Linked DNA regions of Homo sapiens: region 2 is linked to region 1. Evidence: fine-mapped QTL for protein levels in blood plasma. Region 1 holds a variant in brackets. A gene starts in the other region. All regions are shown on their reverse strands.

Region 1 (16,534 bases):
TCTATGTTCATAAGAGATATTAATCTGTAATTTTCTTTCTTGTAAGGTCTTTGTCTGGGTCTGGTATTAAGGTAATGCTGGCCTCATAGAATTAGTTAGGTAGTATTCCCTCTGCTTCTATCTTCTAGAAGAGATTGTAGAGAAATGGCATAATTTCCTCCTTACATGTTTAGTAGAAATCATCTGCAGACCCATCTGGGCCTGGGGCTTTCTGTTTTGAAAGGTTATTAATTACTTCTTCAAATTCCTTAGTAGATATGACTATTCAGATGGTTTATTTCTTCTTGTGTGAGTTTTGGCAGATTGTGTCTTTCAAAGAATTGGTCCATTTCATCTAGGTTGTCAAATTTTGGGGTGTAGAGTTGTCCGTAATTTTTTTTTTTTTTTGAGACAGTGTCTCGCTCTGTCACCCAGGCTGGAGTGCAGGGCATGATCTCAGCTCACTGCAACCACCACTTCCCAGCTCAAATGATCCTCCAGCCTCAGCCTCCTGAGTAGCTGGGACTATAGGCACAAGCCACTATGCCCAGATAATTTTTGTATTTTTTGCAGAGATGGGGTTTTGCCCAGGCTGGTCTTGAACTACTGAGCTTAAAGTGATCTGCCCACTTCTGCCTCCCAAAGTGCTAGGATTACATATGTGAGTCACCATACCCAGCCCATAATATTCTTTTATTATACTTTTAATGTCCATGAGATCTGTAGTGATGTCTCCTCTTTCACTTGTGACATTAGTAATTTGTTTTTTTTTCTTAGTTAGCATGGCTTAGAGGCTTATCAATCTTACTGATCTTTTTAAAGAAACAGCTTTTGGTCTTATTAACTTTCTGTACTGATTTCCTATTTTCAATTTCATTGATTTCTGTTCCAATTTTCATTATTTCTTCTGTTTTTGAAATTTAATTTGCTCTTTTTTCCTAGTTTTCTAAGGTAGAAGCTTAGGTCATTGATGTTAGATCTTTCTTCTCTTCTAATATAAGCATTCAGTGTTATAAATTTCCCTCTAAGCACTGCTATCACTGCATCCCACAAATTTTAGGTTATATTTTCATTTAGTTCAAGATTTTTACATTTCTCTTGAGATTTCTTCTTTGACATAAGTGTTATTCGAAAGCACATTTTTAAATATCCATATATTTGAGGACTTTCCAGTTATCTTTCTGTTATTGATTTTTAGTTTAATTCCATCGTGGTCTGAGATCAGACATTGTATAACTCTATTCTTTTGTATTTGTTAAGGTGTGTTTTACCACCCCGAATATGGTCAATCTTGGTAAATGTTCCATGTGAGCTTGAGAAGAATTAGTAATCTGCTATTGCTGGATGAAGCAGTTCATAGATGTCAATTATATCCAGTTGACGGATGGTGCTGTTAAGTTCAATTATGTCTTTACCAATTTTCCGGCTGCTGCATCTGTCAATTTCTAGAGAGATGTTGAAGTCTTCAACTCTAACAGTGGATTCATCTATTCTTCCGCTTTCTTTTTATTAGTGTTAGCATGGTATATTTTCCTCCATTCCTTTACGTTTAATCTATATGAGTCTTTCTATTTAAAGTGGTTATCTTGTGGAAAATATACAGTTGGGTTTTGTTTTTAGATGCACTCTGACAATCTCCATCTTTTAATTGGTTTATTTCGACCATTCACAGTTAAAATGATTATTAAAATACCTGGGTTAATAATATCTATCATATTTATTACTATTGTCTATGTATTGCCCTTACGCTCTCTTTCTATTTTTGTCTTCCTTTCTTTTTCTGTATTTTGTGGGTTTTTTTTTTTTTTTAAGTTCTGGGATACATGTGCAGAACATGCAGATTTGTTCCACAGGTATACATGTGCCATGGTGGTTTGCTTCCCTTATCAACCCATCATCTAGATTTTAAGCCCTGCATACATTAGGTATTTGTCCTAATGCTCTCCCTCCCCTTGCCCCCCCACCCCAACCCCTGACAGGCCCCAGTGTATGATGTTCCCCTCCCTGTGTCCATGTGTTCTCATTGTTCAACTCCCACTTATGAGTGAGAACGTGGTATTTGGTTTTCTGTTCCTGTGTTAGTTTGCTGAAAATGACGGTTTCCAGCTTCATCCATGTCCCTGCAAAGGACATGAACCCATTCTTTTTTATAGCTGCAGTCTTCCGTGGTTTTAAGCGAGCATTTTAATGATTCCATTATTTCTCTCCTTTGTTAGCATATCAGTTATACTTTTTTTTTTTTCCAGTGGAGCCCTAGAGTTTACAACATACAAGTAAACCACATCTGCTTTCTTTTTTCTTTTCTTTCTTTTCTTTTTCACAGGGTTTCACTCTGTTCCCTAGGCAGGAGTGAAGAGGTGCAATCATAGCTCACTGCAACCTTGGGCTCCTGGGCTCAAGCAGTCCTCCCACCTCTGCCTCCCAAGTAGCTGGAGCTACATGCATGTGCCATTGTTAAAAAAATTTTAAAAATTTAATTTTTAAATTTTTTTGTAGAGATGGGGTCTTGCTATGTTGCCCAGGCTGGGACATCCACTTTCACACAACACTATACCACTCCACAGGTAGTGCAAGTACTTTACAATAACAAAATATTCCTAATTCTGCCTATTCATCTCTTGCATTAATGCTGCAATTCATTTCACTTATATATAAGCATACATCAGTATATATGAGCATACATAATTGAATACATTGTTATAATTTTGAATAAACCTATCTGTTAGATCAATGAAGAATTACAATTTTTATTTTACCTTCAGTTATTCATTCTACAACATTCTTCTTTTCTTTATGTAGATCCAAGTTTCTGACGTATCATTTTCTTTCTCTTTAAAGAACTACTTTTAACATTTCTTGCAAGGCAGGTCTACTGGCAACAAATTCCCTCAATTTTTGTTTGTCTGAGAAAGTATTTCTGCTTCACTTTTGAAGAATCATTTCACAGGGTTCAGAATTCTAGGTTGATGGGGTTTTTTTTTTTTTTCTTCTTCTCAGCTGTTTAAATATTTCACTTGACTCACTTCTTGTTTGCATCTCAAAGTGCTAGGATTACATACGTGAGTCACCATACTGGCCCATACCCGGTTTCTGAGAAGTCAGATGTTAATTCTTATCTTTGCTTCTTGATAGGTGTTTTCCCCCTATCTGGCTACTTACAAGTTTTGGGTTTTTTGTTTGTTTTGGAGACAGGGCCTTGCTCTGTTGCCCAAGCTGGAGTGCAATGGTGTAACCACAGCTCACTGCAGCCTCAGCCTCCTGGGCTCTAGTGATCCTCCCACCTCAGCCTCCCAAAGTAGCTGGGCGCATGTCACCATGCCTGGCTAATTTTAAAATTTTTTTTTGGTAGAGACAAGGTTTTACTATGTTTCCCAGGCTGTTCTTCTTGGTCTTCTTCTTCTTTTCTTTCTTTTTTTTTTTTTCAAGATAGAGTCTCGCTCTGTTGCCCAGGCTGGAGTGCAGTGGCACGATCTCGGCTCACTGCAACCTCTGCCTCCTAGGTTCAAGTGATTCTCCTGCCTCAGCCTCCCAAGTAGCTGGGACTACAGGCATGCGCCACTACACCGGGCTAGTTTTTGTATTTTTAGTAGAAACCAGGTTTCACCATGTTGGCCAGGCTGGTCTCGAACTCCTGGCCTCAAGTGATCTGCCCGCCTCAGCCTCCCAAAGTGCTAAGATTACAGGTGTAAGCTACCACACACGGCAAGACTTTTTTTAAATCTTTGACTTTCCTTAGTTTGAATATGGTCTGGCTAGGTATTGTGTTTATTGTTTTATTTTGGTGTTTATCCTGCTTGATGATTTCTGAGCTTCTTGGATCTGTGGTTTGGTGTTTATCATTAATTTGGGGAAAACTGTCAGTTGCTATCGTTTCAAATATTGCTTCTGTTTCTCTCTTTTCCTTCTGATATTCCATTATGTATATTTCACCTTTTGTAATTGTCCCACAGTTCTTGGATATTCTGTTATGTTTTTGTCTTTTTTCTCTGTGCTTTTCAGTTTTGAAAGTTTATGTCGTCATATCCTAAAGCTCAGAGATCCTTTTCGTAGCTGTGTCCCATCTACTAATGAGTCCATTGAAGACATTCTTCATTTCTGTTAGAGGGGTTTTGATCTCTAGGGTTTCTTTTGATTCATTCTTAGAATTCCCATCTTTCTGCTTACATTAGCCATCTGTTCTTGCATGTTGTCTACTTTTTTCATTAAAAATTTTAATATATTAATCATCATAGTTTAAAAAAATGTCTGGCCTCTCTAACACTTCTTCCATACCTACTCTGGTTCTAATTGTCCAGTCTCTTCAAAATGTGTTTTTTCCCTTTTAGTATGCCTCGTAACTTTTTGTTGAAAGTGATGTGCTGAGTAAAACAAATTATGAAAAGGGCCTTTAGTGATATCGTGGTTAGGTGTCCAGGAGCAGATGCATTCTATAGTTTTATCTCAGTCTTTCAATGAGCTTCTGCCTCTGGACTGTGATCTACATCAGACTTCTCCCCACTCTAGATGGGACAGGATGACCAGAAGGGGCTGGTGTTGGGTATTTCCCCTCCCCTAGGTAGGTTAGGACAGCAAGTCAGGCTCGTAAAATAGTTTCCCCTGAGGGCAGGCCTTGTTAAGAAAAACAGAATAGGCCGGGCTTGGTGGCTCACACCTGTAATCCCAGCACTTGGGAGGCCGAGGCGGGTGGATCATGAGGTCAGGAGTTCAAGACCAGCCTGGCCAAGATGGTGAAACCCCATCTCTACTAAAAAGACAAAAATTAGCCGGGTGCAGTGGCAGGCACCTGTAATCCCAAGTACTCAGGAGGCTGAGGTGGGAGAATCACTTAAACTTGAGGGGTGGAGGTTGCAGTGAGCCAAGATCACGCCACTGCACTCTAGCCTGGGTGGCAAAGTGAGACTCCGTCTCAAAAAAAAAAAAAAAAAAAAAAGAATATTTTGGTGTATTTCAGAATGCTTTCTTTTTCCCTCCCCCTGCTGGAAGTAGAAGGGGATTTTTCTCCAAAATGTACAGGGAGGACTTGGTAGGCTCCTAGAGGTAAAACTCACACAAGCTTGGGACTGAGTCCCCTGGAATTTTTAATTCTCAGACTTGTTCACACTGAGCCTCCAGTAATTCATCAATTACAGTTTAGGTTTTCCTGCCTAGACACTGGTTTCTGCAGAGGTTTCTGCTCATGGATTTCTGCTTTGGTAAGTTGTGATTCTCTGCATCTGCCTACCTGTCTCCCCAGTTTTGGGGACAGCAGTTTTCCTTCTCACCTCCCTTCTCTGAGGAATCTAAGAATTGTCGATTTCCCAGTCTGTTCAGCTCTTTACTTGTGGTTAGGACAGAAGGGCAGAGATTCTGAGCTCCTTACATGGTAGACCAGAAGTTGACTAGGTTTAAAAATCAACTTTTTAAAGTATAATTTATATATAATAAAATGTATCCATTTTACACGAACAGTTCCGTGAGTGTCGATAAATCATATGCTTGTATCGCCTCAGTTATTTTTTAAGCTTCCTAGGCAATCCCATTCGTAGCTGAGGTTGAGAATCATTGTTGTCATTCTCAGTCGCCAGCCGAAGCCTTGGGTCTATCGACCCTGAGGTCATTCACATATTTCTGGGTCTTGGTTTCTTCACATCTCTTGCTCCTAGTGGAACATCTGTAAACACCACCCCACCATGGGGGTCCCAGTTTGCTGGTTCCTAATGTCATAGAATCAGACTCCAAGTAGAGATAGAAAATGTATTTGTGTGGTCAAGTGATTAATCTACCATTCACATATCTACTGAGCCTGATCCATTTCCCATAGCTGGTTTCTCCCTCCTTTTCTCTCAACTTTGCTGCCCTTGGACTGTAAGTACATCTTTCTTCTCAGTGCCCACGCTTGCTGGGGATGTAGCAGCCTCCTCTCACATCAGGCCAGGCTTGTCCTGTCCCTGGCACATCCGTGCTTGTTTCCTCTGTCTTCATCCTCCCTCATCATCTAAGTCCTCTGCATCATACACCCCAGTTCAAATCCCACCTCCAACACCACGTCTTCCTCCTCTATGCCAGAATTCACTTCTCATGAGGGTGCTTCTGGGTGCTGGGGAGAACATGCCAAAGGGATGTGTTATGTGTGACGTGTATATTTTGTCTATGCGAGAACACCATAGCTCTTGGAATACCAGTTGGACAGCGTTCACACTTCCTTGTATCTCCTGAAGCCCACATACACCACAGGATGGACCTGAGTTCAGAACACACCGGAATTCACACCATACATACCACTGGAAAGGTCTGGGACCATTACTGGGAGGAATTTAGCATCCTCCAAACCAAAACGAGTGGTTTTTTTTTTTTTTTAATTTTTCTCCTCTTTCCTGTAGACTTCATTGTCTCCTTCCTTCTCTGTTTCTTTTCCCATTTCCTGACTTGTCCTGCCTAATCCTTGGGCCAGCCTGGGGCCAGGCGGCATCCAGGTCATTGCTTAGCTGTGTTCTCTCATCTCTTCATGACCCTTTATTTCTCAGCTCAGCTCATCTGGAGAGAAAGTGTACACCTGAGGCTCTCTACCTTGACTGCCCTTCAGAGTCACCTGGAGAATGATGCTGGGCTACTCCTCCTCTCAAATCTAACTGATTGACTTGGGGTGAGGTCTTACACGAATAATTCTTAAAGCTAGAGTCCTTAAAGCTCCTCAGGTACTCCAGTGTGCAGCCAGGCCGAGAACCACTGTGAAAGCTCAAGGATTTCAAAGCCTCAGCCTTCTCAGCAAAGGGTGATGGCCCCAGAGATAACCGTGGCACGTGCCAACAGGATGGCATTGCTTGCATTAGGGGTGGGGTAAGGACAGGTACTTCGTATCTCTTACATCTCAGCCTCAGAATGACCGTCACTGACAAGTGAAAGCCAGCACCTCGGGGAAGGCAGGGCGGAAAGAGATGTGTAACTGGAGGATGCTAAGAGCAGGGAGGCAGTCTGCCTGTGAAACAGGGATCGTGTGCTCCTGATGGGGTCAAGGAACGATTAGAGAAGGTGTCACCTGAAAAGTCGCTGGTACGGGATTAGTTCCTCATAAATGTCAGCTTTTATGCTGATATAGTGCTTTCATATTCAAATTATTTGGACAAGAAGGAGCAGCAAGTAAAGTTAGTTCCACTTTATGAACTGGGAAACAAATTAGAGAGATTTAGTAACTTTCCTGCCTTTTTCTCCCCTATCCCACCCCAAGGCCAGCTCACTGTGCAAGTCAACTCGCCCCTCCACCATTGCAGTGTCATGGCTAAGATGTGAGCACTTGAATCTGACTGCAAAGAAGATTCACCATGAAACTCTGAACAAGGTAAGTACCTCTGAACTTCAATTTTCTCACCTGTAAAATGGAAACAATAGAAAGTGTCCGTTGTGAGGATTAAATGAGATCACATGTGCCACGTGCACATAACTGGGCTACTATTTATTGTGGGGGACAGGGTCTCACTATGTTGCCCAGGCTGGAGTGCAGTGGCATGACCTCAGCTCTCTGCAACCTCTGCCTCCCGGGCTCAAACGATCCTCCTACCTCAGCCTCCTGAGTAGCTGGGACCACAGGCACACACCACTACACCCAGTGAATTTTTTGTATTTTTGGTAGAGAGGGGGTTTCACCATGTTGCTCAGGCTGGTGTCAAACTCCTGAGCTCAAATGATTCATCTGCCTTGGCCTCCCAAAGTTATGGGATTACAGGTATGAGCCACTGTGTCCAGCCAAGCTGGGCTGTTACTATAATAGCTTTGCCATGGTTCTTACCACCCTGCCTTGTAACAGCAAAGCTACTTGTCTTTCTCCTTACCTAACTCCACAGGCCACTTTTCTCTAGCTGTCTCACTTTTCTTTCTATATTTATCAATTGCTATTTAAAAGAAATATGCATCTAAAGGAATATATAGGATGGTTTAAAGAATAACACCTACAACCGTGCATCCTGGCTTATGTCCATAATCCCAGCACTTTGGGAGACTGAGGTGGTAGGAGTGCTTGAACCCAGGAGTTCAAGACCAGCCTGGGCAACACGGTAAGACCCTGTCTCTCCAAAGGGAAAAAAAAAATTAGCTGGATGAGGTGACATCCACCTGTAGTGCCAGCTACTCAGGAGGCTGAAGTGGAAGAATCACTTGAACCCAGGGGGTTAAGGCTGCAGTGAGCCATGATCATGCCACTGCACTCCAGCCTGGGTGACAGAGTGAGATCCTGTCTCCAGAAAAAAAGAGAGAAAAGAAGAATAACACCTGTGTACACTTTCTTTCCTTCTGAAATGGGGTCTCACTATGTTGCCCAGGCTGGAATGTGGTTGCAATTCACAGGCTCTATCATACATCACTTCAGCCTCAAACCCCTGGGCTCAAGTGAACCTCTCACCTTAGCCTCCTGAGTAGCCGGAACTATAGGTGTGTGCCACGGTGCCTGGCTGCATATGCTTAAGAAACAGACACGTTTTGAAGCCCTCTGTGCCTCTCTCCAATCACATCCCCATCTCTCTCACCGGAAATAACGACCTTCCTGAATGGTTTCCTTGGTTTTCTCTTTACCAAATACAGACGAATCCCCACAACTTTTTTCATCATTGTATCCTCCAAATATTGATCTTTATTGGAACTCAATAAATGTTGGATAAATGAAGGGATGACTGTCCTAACAGAACTTAAAACTGGGATTTTGACTTACTAGCTTTTTAACCTTGGACAAGCCTCTTTCAGCCTCAGTTTCCTCATCTGTAAAAGGAGAGCACAGATTCAATGCTCTCTGGGTTCCCTTCCAGCACAGGTCTATGATTAGCCAAGGAGATGTTTCCTGAAGCTTGGACTTGGCATACATGGACTGTGGCAAGCCACTGACGGACGATATCAGAGCTTCCCCACTGGTGTGCTGTGGCTGCTAGTAGGCTCCAAATGGTAACGTGTCCCAAAGTATCAGCCCTCAGTGCTTGGAGCAGCAGAATCTGAGGGCTGGCAACATCCAACCACAAACCTCTTTATACCCCTATGTGTGTTACAAGTATCTTTTCCTGTCATTTTCTCTGTGTACTAACAGGAAGGAGGTTGAGAAGCACTCAATTAGATTATTGGCTCGGGGTTGAGTGGGAGGCTGGATTTAGCCTATAAACCCAGAACGATTTGGGGACACCCTTTTCTTCCTGTTGCCCCTACCTGCCCCATTTCAGAGGCCCACTGACCTACCATCTAAGATGCCGTATCAATGTTTTCTGGTCTACAAAGCCACCTAGAAAGAGGAGATGGAGGACAGAAATATCTTGATGCAAGAGGGAGGAAGGAAGCACCCTCTGTGCAGAGGGACCCTCATCCAGGCTTCCCCACAGCTGAGGCTGAGGCAGGAATATGCCCCCAAGAGCAGACCTGGAGCGCTGTGTCCAGGGCTCCCTGCAGGGCGGCTGAGACTCCCCCCAGCCATCCAGCCCAGCTGCCTGGGCCCAGCCACAGCTGTTGGCAAAGAGTCTCCAGGTCTAAAATTAGCTCCGCTCTCCACCCAGGCAGCTCCACCATGCACTCTGGCAGACAGGGGCCCTGCGGTGAGGTAATGACTGGGGCCTGTCTGCCTGGCCTCAGGACAACACAGGGTTAGGAGAAGGCAGCACAGAGCAAAGTCCCACTTTCCCACCATGGCCAGCCTCAGCTGGGCACTGGAGAAACCACGAGAATCAAGAGTGACTGGATGTGGGCAGCTGGACTCCTGATTTGCTTCTGGTTTTCCTCCATGTCTGCACCCATGGTGCCTACCCCGTCATA[T/C]CCTAAGGCACACCAAGGAAAGGAAAGCAACCCTTCACTGAGAGCTTGATGTGCTAGCTTTTCAACTTGCTGCCACGGCACTGTGAGGTCAGGGCCATTATTCCCATTACACAGAACGCCACGGGGATGCTCATCCCCTTAGTTGACCTAAGCCAGTGACCCTGGGAGGAAGCATCCAGAGTCCCACCCCTCTTCTTTGGAGGGGAAGTCTGCTTCCTCCAGGGGCACCTCTGGTGAAAGCTCCCTCCCTCCCTGAGGCATGGCCATGACTCACTAACTCCCACCTCGCCTTCCCTCAGCGTCTGATGGTCTTTGTGGTGGGAGCTGCCAAAATAAGCAGCCAATTCCATGGCCAATCCCTGGGCAGAAATCCCTCCCACCCCTGGGCTAAGCACACAGCAGTGTTTCTGTGTTGGCTGCCGAGCAGGCAGGGAGAGATAGAGGCAAGGCTGAGAGGGACTGGTCCAGTCCTTGGCCTGCAAGGGCAGAGGAGGAGGCTGTGACAAAGATGACCACGGTCACCAGGGCCTGGGGAAGTGCCCCCAAGTCCCTGCGCCTCTCCCGCCAAAGGCTCCCCAGAGATGTCTAAGGACCATCGTCCATGACCCATGCAATTGCACCCCTCCTCACAGCCCCCGCCTATGGAGCCCACCCTTTTATTCTCAGGTGACAGGAGGAGGGGTGAGGACAGCCGCGGTCCCGGAGATAAGGCTGGGCCTGGGTCCCACTCCCCGTCCTGCTTGAACGAGAAGGCGAGGTCACCAATAGGAACCCAGGCATCTCCCCAGGGCTCCTTATCATAGTCTTTCTCCAGCCACGGCCAACTCAGAATCCCCAGTGCTAAGGCCAATGCATTTTCTTTGGGAATAATGTCAGTCAGGGGGACCTCAGGAACCAGGCCGTCAAGCCTTCCGTAATGTCAGGGTCAGAGGGACCTCAGGAACCACACCGTCAAGCCTTCCGTGTTTACGGAAAAGGAAACTGACGTCCGGGGGCAGAGCTGACCTGCTCAAAGTCACAGAGCCAGTTCCCACAGAACCAAGACTGGACCCCACACAGCCTGAATCCCACAAGAGTATTCTTACCCTAACCATATGCTTAAGAGAAAAAGGACTTATGTTTTTTCCTTTTTAATTGGTCAGTTCTGAATAGAACTCCCCATCCTGGCCGGGCGCGGTGGCTCACGCCTGTAATCTCAGCACTTTGGGAGGCCGAGGCGGGCGGATCACGAGGTCAGGAGATCGAGACCATCCTGGCTAACGCAGTGAAACCTTGTCTCTACTAAAAATACAAAAAAATTATCCAGGGGGTGGTGGCGAGCGCCTGTAGTCCCAGCTACTCCGGAGGCTGAGGCAGGAGAATGGCGTGAACCCGGGAGGTGGAGCTTGCAGTGAGCCGAGATGGCGCCACTGCACTCCAGCCTGGGCGACAGAGCGAGACTCCATCTCAAAAAAAAAAAAAAAAGAACTCCCCATCCTGGTTGGTTTTTTTTTAATTGGTCAGTTCTGAATAGAACTCCCCATCCTGGTAACAAACTCCAGGATCCACTGCACTTACATGAGCAAAAACGAGAGAGAAATCACCCGACCACTAAAGGCCTCAGTTGGACACGGTGTTCCCCTCCAGCCTAAATACTCTATGATTCTACAACGTGGCTTCTGCCGTCCTCCTGCTGCGGCACGTCTCAGTTAACACAATTCACCAGTAACTCTCCCTGTTCCTTGGCCAAACGTGCTGGTTTCTTCCCAGGTATCATTCTTCCAGACTTTTTATCTGCACCTGACACAGTTGCTCAACTTCCCCCTTATCGAGAGTCCTTAGAAGTAAGATCCTGTCCCCCATATTTCCCTGACTTCACTTTGTTTCTCTTCTTGGCTGTTAGGTGACCAAAGGTCCCCTAAGTATATCCCCTTTTACTGCTGATGACCAGATTCAAAGTCCTACTGCCCCTACCCAGTTTGGCAGTCCAAGAACAACAGTTCAGGGAAGGGATCTGGGCAGAGTGGGGCAGTGACACCATCAAAGCCACAGCCATCACTGAACACGGTGGCACGTGCTTGTAACCCAGCTACTCTGGCGGCTGAGGTCGGATGATGGCTTGAGCCCAGGAGTTTGACACCAACCTGGGCAACATGGTGAGACCCTGCTTCATTTAAATAATAATAAAAAAAAAGCCACAGCCATGAAACAAAATACCTTCACCAAGAGTCAGGTCACTGCAGAGAGACTCTAGGCTGTCTCCTGTGGCCTGCTGAGCTTCTGAACTCTGCTACATCCCCTACCTGGAGCTGAGTCAGAAGCCTTGATTCCTTCAGGACTTAATAGGTTTGTCTGTGCCAGCTTCCTCTTGCCTTAGTTTCCCCTCTCTATAAAGGAGGCTGTAACCTCTGTCTTCCCAGCGAACTCCAGGATTCATCACGCTAGGTGGGTGTCATTTTCCACTTCCATTGTCCATAAGGACACCTTCCCAGATGGGTGGAAAAGGACCAAACTTCCTTCAGGGAGAAGAGCAGTAGCAACCTCTGATCCTGAAGGTAACCACAGCTGTGACTTCCCAGGAGAAAGGTTCTATGTAAAAACAGGGTACTGTTGTTTGCCTGCCCTTCCACCCCTTCCTTCCCAAGATTGGTTCGTGAAAACCCTGCCGGCTGGAGAAAGTGTTCACCACCCTGGAACTTTCCCAACCTTCTTAGAGATACAAAGGATCAGAAAAAGATAGAAAAACCCTTTCTTAAGGATTTTTTTTCCTGTTGAAAAAGCTGCTAGAAGAATCATCACTGAAAATATCACAACCAATTTCTATATCCCAGAAACTGAACTTCCCTATTCTTTTTTGTATTAACAAGTACCTTGGGTAGTTTTTGCCCATTTCTTTTTCTCAAAATGGTAAATGTTGACTTCCAATTTGATAGCTCTTGCTTCAATCAATAAATACTTCCCTAAAACAGACAGGTGGTATTTCCTAAGCAACCTAATTAAAGCTTTACTACTGGAGAATTTTCTTTATGCAAATATTTTTTCAATTTTCATGCATCAAAGCAAAATTGAATTCTCATTCAACAAGCTAAATCAGGCTTGAATATTTTTTTTTTTTTTACCTCCTCTAATTTTTTTTTTTTTTTTTTTTTTAAAGACAGAGTGTCACTCTGCCACCCAGGCTGGAGTGCAGTAGTGCGAACACAGCTCACTGCAGCCTTGATCTCCTGGGCTCATGCGATCCTCCCACCTCAGCCTCCCAAGTAGCTGGGACTACAGGGTTGGGCCACCATGCCTGGCTAACTTTTAAATTTTTTGTAGAGATGGGGTCTTGCCATGTTGCCCAGGCTGCTCTAAAACTCCTAGGTGCAAGCAATATGCCCACAGCAGCCTCTGAAAGTGCCAGGATTGCAGGCATTCTGAACCATTGTGCCCCCTCTATAATCTTCCAAACATGTTCTGAACCTATTTGTTGCTACCTCTCTGCCACTTTTCTTTAATCTGTTACCCATTTCACTTTTTACCCTCACACTGCCAGTAATGGACTTCCATTTGCTAAACAGAACTAGGATTATGAAAATATCTGCCCTCATCAACTTGTATATTTCTACACAGAGAGAAGAATAACGGATAAGACAGCAATGTTTTAAATACATCATGAATCTGTCTACCAAAGGGCTTCATCATTCATGTGTTCCAGGATTCTTCTGATCTAAAATCAACTTCATCTATTCATTATTTCCCATCCCTTCTCGATTCAAGAAAGTGAGAGAGGAAATCATGACTCCATTTGCCTTTTATTTAAGAAGCTGTACACTGGAATGGGTTCCGTTTCTCAGGACGGGAGTGTGCAACAAAGGAACCTGTTGGATGAAGAATGTCGAGCCTTGGCCTTTCTCGTGCAATGTGAAAATTCAATTCAACATCAACAATAACTTCTTTGCAGGTTACTCTCCAATATCAATGTCAATGCAGGGTGTCAGTGCATGGATCACCCCTAAAGGCAGCTGAGTTGGGAACATGCATGATCCACCCCCAACTGAGTGGCAATAACTTCAGCTAGTTCACTGGTAAGAAAAAAATAGATCAATAGACTTGAGGTTGGTCTATATGCAGGCACAATATACTACCAGATTGTTAGGGCAGTTAGAAAAAGAAAGGATCTTCCCTGACCTCGTGAAACTCAGATGTTAAAAGGAGGCATCCTCAGCAAACAAAAAGGGAATGAGCGAAGGCAGAGGGTGAGTGGCATGGTGTGTTGTAAACAATAGTCTAGGCACCAGGAGTCCTATAAACTGCTATATGGGCAGGTTGATTAAAGCTCTCCAGGCTTTCAATTCTTCACTGGTAAAATCAGGAGGCTGGGTAAATAGATAACCTTTTTAAGGGGCAGCTCAAGTCAATTTGTAGTGACTGCCTGGTGAGAAATGTTGAGAAAATTCTGAGGCTGCAGCTGAGCTCGGTAAAAGAATTTCATGTTCTATTGGAGATGTCTGCCATGGGCCTAGAAGAAGAAATGCAGATATAATCCATTTCAGAATTTAAAATCTCTGGACTTCTGCTTTGCTTTTGGTTTTCTTCCATGTCTGCACCCCTGGGGTCCACCCTGTCCTAGGATTCTTTGATATGTGAAAGTCAGCATGCTAAAACCAATCAAAACAGGGACAGAGGGTATTGAAAAGCTGATTAAGTTATAATAAACAATGGCGCCTAACATCTACTGCATGTATCTTCAAATCAACATTCAATTCTGGGCACATACTAGGCGCTCAGATAAGCATTTATTTATTTATGAGGCAGGGCCTTGCTCTGTCACCCAGGCTGGGGTGCAGTGGCGTGATCACAGCTCACTACAGCCTCCAACTCCTATGCTCAAGCGATCCACCTGCCTCAGCCTCCCAAGTATTAATAACTAGCATTACAGGTGCACACCACCATGCCCAGCTAATTTTTCTTTATTTTATTTTATTGTTTGGTAGAGATGGGGGTCTTGCTATGTTGCCCAGGCTGGTCTTAAACTTCCGGCCTCAAGGGATTCTCTTACCTCAGCCTCTAACCTCTAAAAGCACTGCGATTACAGATGTGAGCCACTGTGTCCAGCCATCAGCTAACATTTATCAAACACTATGTATTAGAAACTGTTCTAAGTACTTTATCTGTATTATTTCACTTAATTGTCACAACAAAAACACAATGAGACAGGTACCATTAATAGTCCCATTTTACAGAGAAGAAACTGGGACATATTGAGGCTCAATAATATGCTCACTGAGGCGCAGCTGACTAAGGACAAGAGCCGGGGATCAAAGTCACGTAGTCTGACTTCAAAGCTTCTCACCACTATGCCATGGTAAAGGAAGGAAGAAATGGAGGACCAAAGACAGCAGCAGATGGCCTGGAGGGCACAACAGCAATGCCAGAAGTTAAGGCAGCAAGGATGGCCATGTCCATACGGAGGAAACACGGGCACAGCGAAGCCTGCGCCGACCCGATTCTAAGGGAACTGCCTGCCTCTTCCAAGCATTCCATCAATGCTGTGGGGAGAGTGAAGCAAACTGTCCTAACCAGATACTCTGGAGCCATCTTTGGCTTCTCTAGCAACCTAGCTGGGACACGCAAGACCAACCCAGATGAAGTAGGAATGAAAGAAAGTCAGTGATCAATTGTAAGTTTCAGAAAACTTAGGTGCAACACAAGTTCCAGAAAGAACGAAGTCAGCTGGTTCTAAAATAATTGAGGAAGGCTTCAGGGAAGAGATGAGAGAGAAGGATAAGCAGAGTTTTGAAAGACAAGCAGAGGGATGTCATGAGACTGGAAAACAGCAGGCACAGGGCGAAGAGGAGGCGCGGCAGAGCCCAAGGGAAGACCAAGCCCAGGGAGGAGACCCCACCTCCGGTTCTGCCGGGACAGGAAGTGAGGGTGAAGCTACTGCTCTCTGGATGGCTGCTTCCAGATGGATGATTTAAACACTCTTCTGCATCTCCCAGCAGCAGGGTTCTTCCTGGCTCTCTTTCTCCCACCTAACATCTGTCCCCTGCAACTAGAGCAAGGAGATTTAATAAGGAGAATATTCCCAAGTCATCAGACTCCAAGAACATACCAGGCACTGGGTAAAGCTTCAGGCAGAGTTCTTAACTAGGGATCCATGTATAGGGGTCAGGGGACTGTGTACCTCCTCCCAAAATAGTATGCAAAATATACAGGAGACGAGCAAACTTCTGGGGAAAGTGTAACCGTTTCTTCACCAGATTCCTTTTTTCTTTTCTCTCTTCTCTTCTTTTCTTTCTTTTTAGATAGGATCTCACTCTGTCACCCAGGCTGGAGTACAGCGGTGAGATCATAGCTCATTGCAGCCTCAAACTCCTGGGCTCAAGTGATCCTCCCACCTTAGCCTCCTGAGTAGTTGGGACCACAGGCATGCACCACCACACTTGGCTTTTTTTTTTTTTTTTTTTTGAGACAAGGTCTCCCTCTGTCACCCAGGCTGGAGTGCAGTGGTCAATCTTGGCTCACTGCAACCTCTGCCTCCCAGGCTCAAGTGATCTTGAGCCTCCCGAGTAGCTGGGACTATAGTAGTGCCACCACTTCCAGCTAATTCTTATATTTTTTGTAGACAGGGTTTCACGATGTTGCCCAAGCTGATCTTGAACTCCTGGACTCAAGTGATCCACCCATCTCAGCCTCCCAAAATGCTGAGATTACAGGTGTGTGCCACCATGCTTGGCCTGGGCTAATTTTTAAATTTTATGTAGAGACAGGGTCTCGCTATGTTGCCCATGCTGGTCTCAAACTCCTGGGCTCAAGCCATCCTCCTACCTTAGTC
Region 2 (16,534 bases), not on the chromosome of region 1:
TGAATGAGTAAAACATGCCTGAGGGTAACAAAAGGGACACAATGGGGAGTGGTGGGGACTGTGGCAGTTGGCAAGCACATATGCTGTCTAAAAGCAGCGGCTACTACTCTATTCCAGTCTGTGTTACCATGGAGAGATGTCGGCCCAGTGTTCCTAGTAAATCTATTTTTTTATGAGAAACTGGAATCAAGGTCTTTTATGTAAAATCTCCCAATAATAAAAATTAAAGATTGTTTAGAACCAATTCAAATTTTGAAAAAAAAAATGTGGGCAGGCTCTCTTCAGCCCTTGGGTCAGCAGTTTGTCATCTTTGCTTTATGGAATCTCTGGTTCCTGCTCTTACCCCCTGGGTTATAGCTCTAAAGCTGAGTTGCCGGCATCTTTCCTAATGAGAAACAAATTTTCTTTACTTGAGAACTAAAAGAATAGGCAATGTGGATCTGAGAATATCCAGGTGGCTTCTTATGATTCTACTCTGGCTTGAGTCTTGTTTTCTAGTCCATGTGACATGAAGCTAGAGAAGAGCATACTAGCCCCAAATCTGCATCTAACATTTTATAATAGTCTCCAGGCACCAGGACAATAGCTAGTGCTTGTGCACCTGTGTGCAAGGAGAGAGTAATTTTACATCTTGGCATTAGTTTCTTTACTGTTTCTGTTGAAGGGATGTTGGCACTCTACTCTCCAACTTACTCCCCGCCTTGAAGAATAGGGTGGGAAATTGGGTTAATTATTGGTTTTCTCTTCCTGCTTTTATCCCCACTTTCTTTTAAAGACAGACAAACTGAAGCTTGACTAGCTAATAAAGAACTTTACTGAATGTGCAATAGCTTTCACATTTGGACTAAGTGGATGGAAGCAGGGAGGGGACAGTGAGGATAGAAACAATTATTGCACACCTACTATATTCCAGGCACTCCACATACAGTAGGCCATTGAACTGCCACAGTTACCTTATCATCATCCCCTTTTTACATACTATAAGGAAACAAGCTCAGAAAGGCTATATGACTTTTTGGGATTCTAATTCAAGTATGCTTGATTCCATAGTCTTAGTTGTCTTGGTTCTTTGTGCATCATGTTACTTCCCTGAGGAGACCTAGATGCTGTGGTTAAGACAATTAAACATTGATTTTTATTGCTTCTGCTGAAAAATAATAATAAATCAATCTGCTGCCTAGCTCTGGGAATAAAGGTGAAAAATCTGGGAAGTTCATGGAGGTTCTAGGGAACTGTGGATGCTTTGAGGTCCTATAGTAAGCTATCTAGGCAAATGAAATTTGATAAAGTGAATCAACATTCTATAGGAATACAGCTTCTAGAGAGGCAGTTTCTATTCTACCATATTGCATTTTTCTATGCATAGCATAACACTTGGACATATTATGTCTCCAATTTTTCATGACATCTTTGATTAAAAGTTTTAAACACCTTTGTATAACTGTTTGGAAATGCAGTTAAACTATCTGAAACAAATCTTCAGTCAGAAGTGGTGTATTTTATGCTCTGCCCATATGACCCACTCATGGTGATGATGAAGCACAATATAATTTTGGATCAAGAAATTAACTCCTTTCATCTTTTAGGTAGTTAATATAATCCTGTATACTATGATGAGATTATCTTGATTTTTAAAAATAAATATGTTCCTGAAATTTTCTGTAAGCCAAATCTTGCTTTTACAATGCCCTTTATTATAAATCTGGAGATGTGTTTCTTTGGGAAATGAATCACTTAAAATGCTTCTAAAAATATCTTAAAATCACTTAAAAAAGAAAATTATTTCTATAAGATAATATTCATATATAACACAAAGCACAAATAAAAAATACTTTGCGTTATTTTTGTTTACTACAATAACTGAAAGGCATAAATAGAAAATGACAGCTTAACTTATAAGAATACATTAAAACAAAGAGAATCTGCTCCTTTTAATTCTACCTTCAAGAATCTATAACCTACTCTTGCTATTTACTTATTTGGTTGTCATAAAATTCTAAGAAACAGAATTGTTTTCACTGGTGCTAAGAGACAGTATTGAAGGTTATGCTGTAAAAATAAGCAACACATGACTTTTGCTAAGATTTCATTAGCCAAAGCAAATCAAATGGCAATACTTAATTTCAAAAAGGGAAGAGGAGTAAAATCCTACCATGAGCTCAAAAGGAGGAAAGCTGGAAATATTAGATGAACCATACCAACTCTTTTTTTTTCTTTTTTTTATTTTTTTATTTTTATTATTATACTTTAAGTTCTAGGGTACATGTGCACAACATGCAGGTTTGTTACATATGTATACATGTGCCATGTTGGTGTGCTGCACCCATTAACTCATCATTTACATTAGGTATATATCCTAATGCTATTCCTCCCCCCTCCCCACACCCCACAACAGGCCCCCGTGTGTGATGTTCCCCTTCCTGTGTCCAAATGTTCTCATTGTTCAATTCCCACCTATGAGTGAGAACATACGTTGTTTGGTTTTTTGTCCTTGCTATAGTTTGCTGAGAATGATGGTTTCCAGCTTCATCCATGTCCCTACAAAGGACATGAGCTCATCATTTTTTATGGCTGCATAGTATTCCATGGTGTAAATGTGCCACATTTTCTCAACCCAGTCTATCATTGATGGACATTACTCTTTTTTCTAGCAGTTTTTAGAAATGGCTAGCAGGAAGAAAATACAACAGAGAAAAATTTCAGTAACAAACAAGAACATACACAAATAACAAAAGGGCTCATTAGAATATAGCTGAATAATCCTAAGGGGTCTTTACAGAGAATTGTCAACTTCTATATATTGAATCAAGTATCTGATTAATACAAACTCTAAGTTGGTGGCATCTTTTCTAAAAAGAGGTAAACCTATAGTACAATATACTCATCAATCTTTATGTATTCTGCCATTTTTGAAAGTTAATTTAATAACCTGAGTTTTCTAAGTCCCAGTGGGACAAGAAGCACTAAAAGGCAAAAAGTTTGTGCTATCAGAAAATTATTTTGTATATAATCATTTCATAATACCTCCACTTACATATTTATTTTTTAAATAAGTATGAGTTCTGCAACACATGGCATAGAAGATCAGCACACAACAACTACTTGCATTCATATATACTAGCAATGAGTGCATGGAAACTGAAATTAAAAATACAATAACATTTGCAATTGCTCCAAAGAAAAAGAAATATGTAGATACGAGTCTAACAAAATATGTATAGAAGTCATATGCTGAAAACTACAAAACACTGGTGAATGAAATCAAAGAAGACCTAAATAAATGGAGAGATACTGTGTTCATGGATTGGAATGCTCAACAAATTAAATTTGTCAATTGTCCCCAAATTGATCAATAGGTTTAATGCAATTTCTAGCTAAATTCCAGTAAGATATTTTGTAGACATAGACAAGTTTATTCTAAAGTTTATGTGGAAAGGTACAAGACCTAGAGTAGCTAAAACAACCCTAAAAAAGAGGAATAAAGTGGGAGGACCCACTCTACTTGAAATTCAGGCCTACCATATGTCTACAGTAATCGAGACTGCGTGGTACTGGTGGAGGCATAGACACATAGATCAATGGGATCAAATAGAGAAGCCAGAAATAGATTCACACAATATGACCAACCAATGTTTGATCAAGGTGTAAAAGCAATTCAATGAAAGAAAGATAGCTTTTTCAACAAATGATACTGGAGCAATTGGACAAAAATATATAGGCAAAATATGAACATCAACCTAAACCTTATACCTTTTATAAAAATTAACTCAAAATAGATCATAATTAAATGTAAAACTTTATAACACTTTTAAAACAAAAATATAGAAGAAAATATTCAGGATCTAGAGCTAGGTAAAGGGTTCTTAAACTTAATGCCAAAACATGACCTATATGACAGAAATTTGATACATTGGACATAAAACATTAAAAAATTTTGTTTTGTGGAAGTTCAAGGGAAGAGGATGAAAAGAAAAGCTACAGACTGGGATAAAATATTTGTGATAAGATATACAGGTGTCAAATAAACAATGAAAAGATGGTAGATATCATTAGGTTTTAGGGAAATGCAAGTTAAAACCACAATGAGATATCACTATATACCTACCAGAATGGCTAAAATAAAAAATAATGACAACAAAAAATGCTGGCAAGAATGCAGATAAACTGGATCTCTCACACATTTCTGGTGGGAATATAAAATAGTACAGTTGCTCTAAAAACAGTATGACAGTCCTTACAAAACTAAACATGCATTTACCATACAACCCAGGAACTACATTGTTGGGTATTTATCCCAGAGAAATGAACACTTACGCTTATTCAAATACCTGTAGACAAATGTTCATAGCAGTTGTAACCGAAATCTAGACTCAACCCTCCAATAGATGAATGGTTTAAACAAATTGTGATATATCCCTACCATGGAATACCACTCAGCAATGAAAAGGAACAAACTATTGATACCAGGAACAACTTGAATGGGTCTCCAGAGAATTATATCAGGGTTGGGGGAGAAGAGAGAAGAGACTATCTCAAAAGGTTGCATACCGTATGATTCCACGTAACATTCTTAAATGACAAAATTATAGAGATGTAGGACAATTTAGTTTAGTAGTTGACAGGGAGTAGGGAGAGGAGGAAGGGAAAAGATGGGTGTGACTATTAAAGTGTAATACAGGGTATCCTTGTGGTAATGGCGCTGTTTTATATTTTTACTGTGGTGGTGGTCACATGAATATACACATGCGATAAAATTGCATAGAATTATATACACAGGCAAATGAGTGCATATAAAACTGGTGAAATCAGAGTAAGATGAATGGATTGTACCAATGTCAGTGTCCTGTTGTGACATTGTACTATATTTATGAATGATGTTATCATTGGGGAAAACTAGGTGAAGGGTATTTGAGATCTTTCTGAATTATTTCTTACAACTGCATGTAAATCTACCATTATCTTAAAATAAAACTTTTTAAAAAATGAGTATGAGATTATGCTCTCATCCCTATTTAATAAACAGAGAAAATAAAGCATGAAGGTAATCATCACTTAAGTTTCTATAAGACCTGGTAGGATGTCTAGATTAGGACTCACCCAAATGGGAGTTCTCAATTCAGAAATCAAGATTGGAACTAATACAAAATACAAGGATGACTAACATTTACACTAATGAAAAACCTGTCAGAGAATTCCAGCAGCCCCATATACAGTTGCCTGCAACTGCATAAGAGATCTTAAGCAAGTTCAATAGAATCAACTCAATAGAACCAATTGAGAATAATTGCTTGCTTTAAGCCACTAGGTTTTCGGATGGTTTGTTATGCAGTAATTAGGATTCTACACCAAGCAAGGGAGTGAGTGGTTGTAGCCAAATAGATGAACTTTTAAATCCCAGTGAGTCTATTTATTTTAAATGCTAGAATTTATGTTTGTCTCAGACTATCCCTTGAAACTCATTTTCCAGAATACTCTGTAAGCATGTTGGAAGTAATGATGGGAGTTGGGTAATGCACGCACAAGAGAAATTGAACAACCAGTCCTTGCCCTTGAAGAACTCACAATCTAGTAAGACAAAACATCACTGCATTAAACGGCATGAGAACAGTTATAAGGCAACAAATCAGCAAGTTCAAACCGATATACAACAGCACAAATTGAATGCATGTGGCAGTGTATGGCTACCCAGGCAGCAGGACGGAGCTAGACATTTTGGGCCCTGAAGGCAACATTACAGAAAGGGCCCCCTTTCCTTTGTTAACAGTGAAATAAACATCACCAGCAATGCAGGGGCTAGCTGGATACTATTAACACTTCTGAAAAAGCAAAAGGAGGTAACGTTCAGGGACAATTATTCTTGTTTTAATTTTTCTTTGTTTTCTGTTCCTGATAAGTGGTTTGTTTGTTTGTTTGTTTGTTTTTTTGACAAGCCACAGTTTCTCTGAACATCAATTTCCTCATCTACAGACTGGAGATAACAACCAGAGAGTAGTGGGTTGAAAGTCAGGGAATCTGGATTGGAATCTCAAATTTGTCATTTACTAGCTGTGTGACCTTAGATACATCATCCTCTTCCCCCAATTCAGTTTCCTCTTCTGTGAAATGATGAAGTTAAGCTGAATGGTTCAGAAGTTCCCCACCAACTCTAACACTTGAGACCTCAGGTAGTTCGGTTGGTTTTGAGGGTTTAAAAAGTAATGTTGATGTATGTGAAAACACTCCGTAAGCCATAAAGTACTATACAGATGTTAGGAATATAGATATTTATCTAGTTCATCTAGAAAAAAGCTCTGCGGTTCTTCTCCAAATTTAGGGGCTTAAAATTTTGTCTGTCGAGGCAGCACTTTCCTGGACCCTAGAAGTTTCTGACAATTCTTTGCAACTATCACTTGTTGAATAAACACAAATTTGGAGTAGGCAGGCCCACCAAGGCATCAGCAGTGCTACTGTGATTTCCAGGTTGAGCTCTTGGCCCAACTTAGAAGCTTAGGGACTCATTTAAAAAAAAAATGGTGGGTATAGTGTGTGGCACCAAGTTTTCTTCAAGACACTTAACAGTTAGAACAGGCCCTTTCCATGAGGCTTGGGAGCCCAGTTTGTAAGAGAAAGTGGATTTCTAATCCCTGACCCTACACACACCCATCTCCACCCCGCCTTTAAGGACACCAAACCAAAGCTTTGTCACTCTGTTAGCCACAGTGTGGATATGGGAAACGCCGTGAAATGATAAGCAGCATGCTAGGGCGTGATTTGCGAGGAGGGTTCATTCTGTGTCCAGGGCACCAGCTCAGTACCAGACCAGGTGCACACCTCGGAAAGGCCTTGGTGCCGGAGGAGAGCGGGTGTGGGCTTCCAGGCAGGGGAGTCAGAGGGTAGTCGGTATCTTCAGGGCGTGCGCGAGTGGTGGGGAGCTCCTAGGTGCATCCAGTGCAGAGGGGGAGGAGGGACCGGAGGAGCTGTGCGGTCCCTTTAAGACCCCAACGCTCGCCTAGCCAAAGGAGTGGGGGCTGCAGTGGGGGCGCTGTGTGATGGGAAAGTAGCCGGCTGAGTCTCACACTTTCTCCCGATTTTTAAACTTTCGGGCCGGGGGAGCAGAAATAAAGCCATTGTGCCGGGGTGGAGAAAGTGTGCGTGCTTGCAGCGGCTGCGTGCTTGCGGACTTCCCGCCAGCGCCGAGCGGCCGGCTTCTCGGGCCAAGTGGGGAGCGAGCGGGAGGGCGGGCAGGTGGCCCCGGGCCGCCGCGCCCGCGCCTTGGCTCTGCCCCCGGGAGCCGAGCAAGCCGCTGCTCCCTCGTGGTGTGAGGGCGGTGATGTTTTTCCTCCCACCCACTTTTGAGTTCCCCCTCCCCCCTCGCGCGCACTCTAGCTCTCGCCACAACCTGCCAGCCCCAGACCTCGGACGAGAGCGCCCCGGGGAGCTCGGAGCGCGTGCACGCGTGGCAGACGGAGAAGGCCAGTGCCCAGGTTAGTGAGCAGTGCCCGGCGCCCGCTTCCCTCACCTCCTTTTCCAGCCTTTGCACAGGTGGGTTGCCTTCTCTTGGCCGGAGCCGTCCCTGGAAGTTTCCCCAGGGTGCCCCAAATTCCCCTGCCACCCCAACCTGTTCTGTGCTCCAGCAGTTAGCAACCTGGATGGAGGTGGGGCCCAAGGCTTCTGACCAAAGCAAGTTGGGGGTCTCTGAATTCGAACTCACAGCTCGTCCCTCCCCACTCGGCCTGCATTTCTTTATGCTCTGGCGCTTTGAGAGGTCACTTAGGTACTCCACCCTGAGCTACCCAAGGGACTCTGCAGTCCCCTTAATCACTGCCTGTATTCCTGAGCCTGTTTTCTCATTTTGCTGATGAATACATGGTAAAGTTAATGTAGCAGGGTAGATGGGCGAAAGGCTCCCTATCCTATCCTCTGGCCATCTGCCTCATTTTTTGTCCCTGACTACGGGGGTCAGAATTTGAGACACTAGGCTCTGGAAGCAACGTGGTATATTGCCAGAACATAGGGCCCGGAAAGCCTGCTTTCCAGTCCCTCCCAGCCCTGCCACTAAAGTTATTTGAGTTCTCTGGGTCCCCCCAGTGCCCATTTTGAAGGTGGAGTTGTGTGGAATGAAATGAAATGATAGAAAGGTGTTTTGCAAGCCAAATGCGAGGCATTGTTTGTCAGTCATAAGCAGCAATGAAAGCATTTCCTCCAACAAGAGATACCCTGGGTTAAAACTGCCATTTTCAGTGGCAACACACCACCAGTTAACTGAACTTTTCTTGCTGGGTGGTAGAGTGGGGAGAGGATTTCAGCTGATGGACAAGGGCCTGGGACTCCAGTGTCTTTCTTATTGTTTGTCGGAAAGAAAATTGCTACCCTAGGGGCTGTCCCACAGATGATAGTCAATGTGAGATTACAAGGTCAGTCAAGCCTCTCAGGAGGATTAAAGAGACACTGTGGGGCGTGAAGAACTGGCTGACATGTGTTCATCCCTTAGCCTTCCTGTGGGGATGTCTCTTTGCTTCTGTTCTACCCAGGAGACCTGTTCTGAAAGTGGGCTCCTGACACTTGATGGCCCAGATTGCCTTGCAGTCACAGCTGGGCAAGGAGCAGTTGGTCCCTTTGCTTAACGCAGATGAACAATGTGAATGCTTGTTTCATGGAAGCACCTTAATAAATACCTTTCTTTTGGTACTTGATACATTTCTCTTTCTCTTGTAAAACACAGGAACTCTCCCATCCCACCTCCACTACCTGTGTTAGTTGCAGGGTTTTGTTTTTTTGTTGTTGTTGTTGCTTTCTTGTTGGGTCCTGGATCCCCTGAAGCATGTCAATGGCTACATGTCTAAGTAACCTGTAAAAGAGCCAGTGCAAGTTCAATGGCACAACAGCCTGTGTGAAGCAGACAGAGAGTTAATGCAGAAATAACTCCAGTTAACTGGGTCAAAGTATAATTTGAAAAATTAAGGACAGTTTGGCTCTTTGCAAGAATAAGAGTCGGCTAAGTTCGCTGAGCAATGCTTGCTAGTGTTTACTGCTGCAGTCCCAACACATGTTTTGAACCACCCCCTTCCCTAAAAGAAAAAGCTGAAGAGATAAAGAGAAATTGAACAGTGAGGAGATCTGGGGAGGGAACTCTTCTTGGTTCATATTTCTGCACAGAATACAAAGGCAGGACTTCAGGATCTTGTAAATCAAAAGTGAATATTTATAAAGCGATTCATTTTCTGATGTTCTCCATCACAGCCTGGGAGGCCACACAGATGACAGGAACGCCAAAGGAGATTAATTGCTCTCTAGTTACCAACTTTTTTATTTGCTCATAATATTAGTTGGGACCTAAGAAAGGCAAAAAAATCTATGAGCTGTTTTCTTGCCAACTTGAGTTATGAAGCAATGCTACAGTTCACCGAATCGCCCAACCATTATACAAGAAAAGCAGCCCTGTTGATTCTCGCATGGGGAGACCCTAAAACCATGGTTTCAGAAACACCCGTTGAAATCCATATATGAATGTGATAAATTGGATTTCAGTGGTTAAAAATCTTTCTCTTTTGGAGGCTTGGGGAATAAACTTATTAGAATAGGCTCAGGAAGAACCTCACTGAGGTGGGTAGCTGTGTTAAATTGTTAATGAAAATGATTTGTTTCGAATAAACGTGGTAGCCCTCAAGGGACAGTAACATTCTGAGTGATTGTAAGTGGGCCACAAACTCACAGAGGGGACCAAGACATCAGAACTCAGGTCTTTAGATGGGTAGGAACATGTCCTGAGAGAATTTGGTTCTTTAAGGAGCAGGGAGGAGGTAAAGAAGGAAGGCAGACGGTGCTGCAAATCTTGTTTGATAGCACAGATTACTCTATCATCAGTTCTTCCTTGGTTATGCATTCATAATTGAAACAGTGGATTTTGAATGACCCAGGCAACTTCATAGCATTTAAGTAGGAGCTGTAGCATCTACTTCAGAGCCCAAAGATATTCAACTCTCCAAAATGATCGTTTTGCATTCCTTCAAGTTCTTTATGTGCAATATTTAGGTTGGACTTTCTGGAAAGATCAATGAGTTCATTTCCCATTCAGATTGAATCTGGTGTTTTTAGAACATTTCAATATTTTCAGATCACCCATTGGAGGAATTTTGCAAACTCTAACATCTGTGGAAATGATCCGTGACTAGATGTGAGCTACAGCAAACTTTCTGTGTTCCAAGGTTCAAAAGGTTTAAGATTTCTACCCCTTATACTGGGAATGCCAATCTCATGTTTTGAAGAACTGTAGTTGTTTTAATGGTCTTTTGCATGGTGGTGCAAGGTGAACAAATTATCTATTTAATTTGCCCAATTTCCCCTAAAAATGGCCCATTTAAAATTTCCATTTTACAATGGACTTCTTGGGGGAGGAATATGTTGGAACCATTTTAAGCAGTAAAACTTTTCAGGTGTTTAATTGCATCCATTTGCTAATTACATCTATCTTTTGCAATATTAGTTGCCAAACCAAAGATCCTTGTAGATCTCATAGAGGACACAGGAGAAACTGATCAATTTGTACTTCATTCCAAAAGGATTAAAAGTAGTCTTGAAGCTAAGATTAGTTAACTTTCATTTCAGAAATTGCTTGGTCTCATGCTTGTTACTTTTACCTTGTTTGCTAAAATAACCGTTTTTGCAAGCTAAAGTTTCCCTTTTCTCCCAAAAAAATCTCTTGAGAAATCAACTTTAATTCCCTTAGAAAGGAAGATTTCAAAATTTATTTTCATTTTCCTATAACTTGCCTGTAAGGACTTAGCCTCAGCTTTGGATAGGAATGCACCCTCATTCACTTGAATTTTCACCCACAAGCCTTGCAAGACAGGAGAGGCAAGTCCTTTATCTTGTGCAGGCAGACAATACTTACACTTATGTAAATTCTAGGACATTTTTTTTTTATTCTAGCAGGTTAGAAGCCTGAGCATCAGTGACCTCTATCATTTCCAGAAGATCTGTGTTAAGTCTTTTTTCTGCTTTCTTCCCAACAGCTTGAAGGTTCTGTCACCTTTTGCAGTGGTCCAAATGAGAAAAAAGTGGAAAATGGGAGGCATGAAATACATCTTTTCGTTGTTGTTCTTTCTTTTGCTAGAAGGAGGCAAAACAGAGCAAGTAAAACGTAAGTGTCTTGCATTTGGAAAATAATACACTTTTTATAATTTCTTTGAAAATGTGGCTATAATCTGTAGCAATTATGATTTAGCCCAAATGTGGCCGTGCCATTATTCTAAGAGAAGAAAGTGAATGTTACTGGTTTATGCATGAATTGATAAAAGAATGAGAGCTTTGAATCAGGCCAACTAAATTTGGGGCTGTTTTTCTGATTATCATGTAGTCTTTGTCTCATAGAACATATGACACATTAGCTTATTTTCTCTTCCCTGTTCTAAACTATACAAATCTCATTACATTTTACGTAACTCTAGAAATATCTGACAGATGAGCTGGAATTTTCCCAAATTTCAGACTCTTCAGCAAAGGCTTTCAGTTTATGAAAAATAATGACACAGAAAAGAAAAAAAAAGAAAAAGAAAAGCAGGCTCTGCCTATTCCCTTATGCCGAAAAACGAGGAAGGACGAAACCTTCCTATGAACTGGGCTCAGATGAAAAATGTTTTGAGGAAATTGAGATTCCAGGGACCGTTAGCAAATTGGATGCCATTTATTGAAAAGAACATCCCCGCAAAGCCAGGGAATATTTCTAGAAAGTCAGCGATCCGTGTAATGGGCTAACACATTGGAGAAAGCAGAGAGTGGCAGGAAGTGGGGGCGGGGGGGATAATTAACCCTCCTTGCTGCCACGTTTAGGAGATTTATGAGTAACGGTCGACATATCCGTTCTTGCTGCCTTTGCACAATGTGGGTCTTACCTTCTTTGGGCCACTTGCAGCCATCTCTGAGGTAGATGCTTGCTCTAAATTTGAAGGAAAAGCCTAAGCTCTAGTTCCCCTTTTTGACAGCATCAAAAAAAGCACAAAATGGAATTGGTCCAAGAGGGGCATTCTCTGCTTCACTGAACTTATTCATGAGAAGGAGCTGTGAAAATATTCTTGGTAGGAACTGAAGCAGCATCTGAAGCCCTTCACTTAAACCTTTATCTCTTTTATCACATAAGTTAAATAGATCAGGCAGAAGGCTTGCTGACAAGGAGAACAGTGCCAAGCCTATTCCATCCTTAAGTGTGTTTCTGTCCCACTACAATTTTCATAGTAAGTGTAGTCTTCTTCCTGGGAGAAACAGTGTTTAATAGTGTTTTTGATTATGCTTTTGAGCATGAGCGGTGTATGGTGATATCTAGTATGATTGGGACACAAAAGGAAGTTTAGTGGGGCATGATCTCAGCAAGGAAGCTTGGATCAGCCTCTACTCTTGTATCCCTCAAATTGCTTCCTTCTTCTTCCACTTGAATATAGTTCATCTCAGAATCCTCCTCTTCCAGAAGCCTTCCTTGATTTAAGTGGATGTGACAGAAGCATCCATGCATTCTCAGCTCAGCTCACAATTAGCTGGGCTTAGGGATGAAATATTACTCAATAAGTACAATGTACATTATTTGGGTGATGGTTACACTTAAAGTCCACACTTTATGCGATATATCCATGTAACAAAACTGCACCTGTACCCCTTAAATTTATACAAAAAAATCTTCCTGTCTTAGAGAGAAACTTCCCTTATAGCCTGTTAATGATGACCTCATGGGGAAAGCTTGTAACTCTCAGAAGACCATCTCTTATGGAAAGCCTTTCATATTTATGAAGAATTGAATATTGTCCATGAAACTTAGACAAAGAAAGATGTGACTTAAAAAAATTACAAACCCAAATCTACTACTTTCTAATATTTCCTTGTGCTGATGAATTTGTCCCAAGCCCTTTTGATATTCAATTGGTGCCAAAGTGATTATGTAACAGATGGCCTAGGGCACCAGATCTGGTCCAGTGTTTCAGGCTTATTGTCAGATGATGACGCTAAGGTCATGGTCCTTCCCTTAGTGAGCCACTGAGCATCATTATGTGTGTCCATGCCCAAGCTAACTGTTCTGAAGACATGCAAAATCATCTCTGCTAAAGGGAAAACCTCAAAGCATATGTCCTATATATGCTGTCTTGATATATGCATGCACATACACAAACACACACAATATGCATGCACAGAGATTTATATTGCAGCTCTAACAGTGAGAAGTCAGAAGCAGTGGAAATGTCAGTTCATAGATAAATAGTTACAAAAATGATCCAGGTAATGCAATATAATGCTACTATTAAAAACACTGTTTATTGAAAATTTGGTGGCCCTGGGAAATGCTTGTTAACTTATTTTTAAGTTTCTTAAATTATAAAATTAATATATATGCTTATTATACAAAACAACATGAAAGCATCTGAGCTTCATATGGAACATGTGTCCCTAAACTCTCATTCCACTCTCCTGGGATAACCATTATTAGTGGTTTGCTGTGTGATCTTCCAAACTACTTTCTTTGTTTTATAAAATTATATATACATGCCTGTATGATATTTTATTTTACAAAAATAGGATATTATATACACTTTTCTGTGATTTGCTTTTGCTCAATAATGTGTGTAGGACATCCTTCCATGTCAATACATTGCAATGTAATAGTGCCATATTCTTTCTAATGCTTGCATGGTTTGCAGTTGCATAAGTTTGCATTGGTTTATTTAACCAGTCTATATTTGTAGATATTGAGGTTGTTTCCGGTTTTTGCTATTAAAAGTAAGACATTTATGAACATCTTTAGGCACTTATTCAAGTATTTGTGAGAAATAGTCGAAGTGCATGTTCAGTTTTAATCTTCATAAGTACTGTCAAATTGCCCTTCATATAAGTTGTATTAATTTATGCTCCCACCATCTATGTATGAAAGTCCATTTCTAATTCCTTCACCAAGATTATAATCAATCTTTGTATTTTGGGGCCATTTTAATAGGAGAAATAATCTGTAAGTTTTGCTTGGTATTTTTCTCTTTCTGCAGCATCTTTTCGATTATGTACTAGTTCAATTTTATTTCTTCAGTGAATTGTCTATTTTTAGTTTGGTTGCTTGTGATATTTATTTGTTAAAAACTTACTTATTAACCTTTTATATTTTAAATATTATTTTTGATATGCCACTTGTTTTAATCTTTAAGTTGTATTTTTCCCATATAGAAGTTTTAAAATTTTACGTAGTCAGATCTGTCATTCATTTTCTGTATGGCTTCTGGATTTCTTATTCCTAGGAAGGTCTTTCTCACCCTATATTTTTATATTTTCTTCTACTGCTGCCATAATTTTATGTTTTACCCATAGTTCTCTATTCCATCTGAAATTTATATTCCTGTATGGTATGCAATGGGGAACTAATTTTTTTTAAATCTCCGGATGGTAGGTTTATGAATGTTATTTTTGCTCACTTTTATGCTTCTGTCTATTCCAAAATTTCCACAATTGGCAAGTTTCACTTTTAAAACAGGAGAAAAGCTCTTTTTAAAGTAAAAGTACATCTTATTTCCCATATTTTTACTGTGCAACTCTAGAGACAAGTTGGTATGTGAGTAGATGAAGAAACAGAGGGGTTTTCTAAAATTAAAAAGGAAAGCAACTGGAAAAACTTCAGAAAATGGGTAAGAGTAGGCCTGGGTCATAAACCCTTCACGTCTCTCCTTGTCTGACACCATTTTACCAAAAGAAGGCAAAGTTTTTTATCTTGCAGGGGCTGGTTAGAATATAAGCTTTTAGGTCAAGGAATGTGTTTTGTAGCCTGTTTGCTCTCCTATTTGGGGCATCACAGGGGAATGACGGGGGATGCCATTATGGTCAAAGATGCTCACTCAATTGATTCAGAAATCTGAAGAGGTGTGGAAAAAACGCTTTGTTTGTGGAAAGCTCATCACAAGGAATGGTGAAGATGGGTGCTGCCACTTGCTGGTAGCTAATTAGCCATAGTTACAATTTCTCTTATAAGAGAGAAGACAGGCTCAGGAAACCCGAAAATACTGATAGTGCATTGCAATGGATGAATGAGCCATTTGTTGCTTACATAAAAGTTTGTTACTGTTTAGCATCAGCAAGGTTTGAGTTCTTTAGCTGGGAAAAGGTCCTTGTGTATAACTCCATTATGCTCTGTTGTTAAAGTTGTAGTCAATGAGGCCAGGAAACTCTTTTGAAGTTCAAAGGAGCGTAACATTCACAGCATAATATTCATGCAAATATGGGATAAATGGGCTGAAGAGTTTGCCCATTTGGCAGATCTAACTTAGGTAATGAACTATTGATCAAAGTGAGGTTGAAGAATTGAATTGTTAAGAATATTCAATTATGTATTTCTAATAGACCAGCCTGTGCCAAGTCTGGCAAAGGTTCTGGAGAGAGAAATTGTTCATGTATTTCATGCAGTCCACTCCTGCTTTACAAGGTAGTTAACTGGATCTTCAAGGAGCTAGATTGTCACTTATTTTTCTCCTCAAGAGAAAAGCTTCCAATATTCAGATTTGGCTAAAAGTGGGCCTCTGGACTTCTCAGGAAAGGCAAGCCACCAAAAGATTGAAGGGAAGGAAGAAGATACTTAGAAAGTTTGAAACATGTGAAGCCCACTTAGAACTTCTCTATTGTGAGAGCCAGCCAGGAAGGCATGGGTTTTCCTCCTCCAGATTCTCCCTTGGTCATTTGAGGTGATTATTGAGCAAGCAAATGCGTGGACCTGTTCACATCTTAGAAGTTTAATTAAGTGGAATTAGACGAAAGGAATACCTAAAATTAGATAGCTTAATGCTTTTCAAAGTATATTCTTAATTGTTTTTTATTTTGGTGAGGGGGCAGTAGGTTTTGTCATGGAGGCTCTGTAGTTAGCCTAGATCCAATCCCCAGCTCCTTGACTTACTTATGTACCTTGGGAATGTTACCTAACCTCTCCAGCTTTCGTTTTCTTATCAGTACAGTGGGGGAAATAATAGCATAATGAGCGTGAGCATTGTCATTTGAAGAAGAAACGAGATTGTGTACACCAAGTGCTTTGCATAGTGGCTGGCACATAGTAAGTTTTTCATAAGTAGTTGCTATTAGAGCAACTCTCTTACAAGCCAAAGATATTATCCCCTTAATTTTAAGGTGAGAAACTTGAAACTCAATGAAATCAAGTGACTTTGTACAAGGACAAGCAGCAAGTCCCAGCCAGAGCTAGAACCAAAACCCAGGTCTCCGAATTAAGTGTTCTGTTCACTATACCCATCTGCCTCTTGGAATTCTTTGAGGAAGTCAGTTCATTGTCTTGAATAGAAGCCCAGTCCTTTATACATGGCAGCCACTTAACACATAAGAGATGATCCAAGTAAATGAATAAAAATTTTCTAACCCAAATTCCTAAGAGGGATAGTATACTATTTGGGAGTTAAAAGACTGAGACAAGGACTAAAAATTTTTCAGGAACCTACATTTGCTAAGCCAAAGGAAAGTAGTGAGGAAGGTTAAAAGTATGTGCGTCTATGTCTATGCTTCTTATATTTCCCTGACTTCTCAGTAGGATTGGAATGTC

Which allele goes with the higher level. Positions count from the first base shown, and alleles are read on the strand shown. Strength reflects both the effect of a copy and how common the allele is.
In carriers of allele C in region 1, the plasma level of the protein whose gene starts at base 7,390 in region 2 tends to be higher than with T alone (weak association).

The links. PIP is the posterior inclusion probability: the model's chance that the variant is causal. The UK Biobank Pharma Proteomics Project read protein levels with antibody pairs (Olink). The fine-mapping took linkage between variants from a reference panel, not from the people measured, so its PIPs are less certain.
Region 2: CHRDL1 starts here. The variant in region 1 is fine-mapped to the plasma level of the CHRDL1 protein (UK Biobank, PIP 0.94).

The regions. Positions count from the first base shown.
Region 1 is chr12:474,581-491,114 of GRCh38, reverse strand. All of the region lies in intron 1 of B4GALNT3 (beta-1,4-N-acetyl-galactosaminyltransferase 3), which reads right to left. LOC124902853 (a long non-coding RNA gene) reads right to left here. Exons shown (of 2, transcript XR_007063151.1): 1 at 15,602-16,534; 2 at 13,490-13,778. Among named protein-coding and RNA genes, the nearest start is that of B4GALNT3, 23 kb to the right of the region's middle. The variant T/C (reference allele first, on the strand shown) is at 9,736.
Region 2 is chrX:110,786,673-110,803,206 of GRCh38, reverse strand. It overlaps CHRDL1 (chordin like 1), which reads left to right and starts at 7,390. Exons shown (of 12, transcript NM_001143981.2): 1 at 7,390-7,463; 2 at 10,992-11,119. The coding sequence starts at 11,026.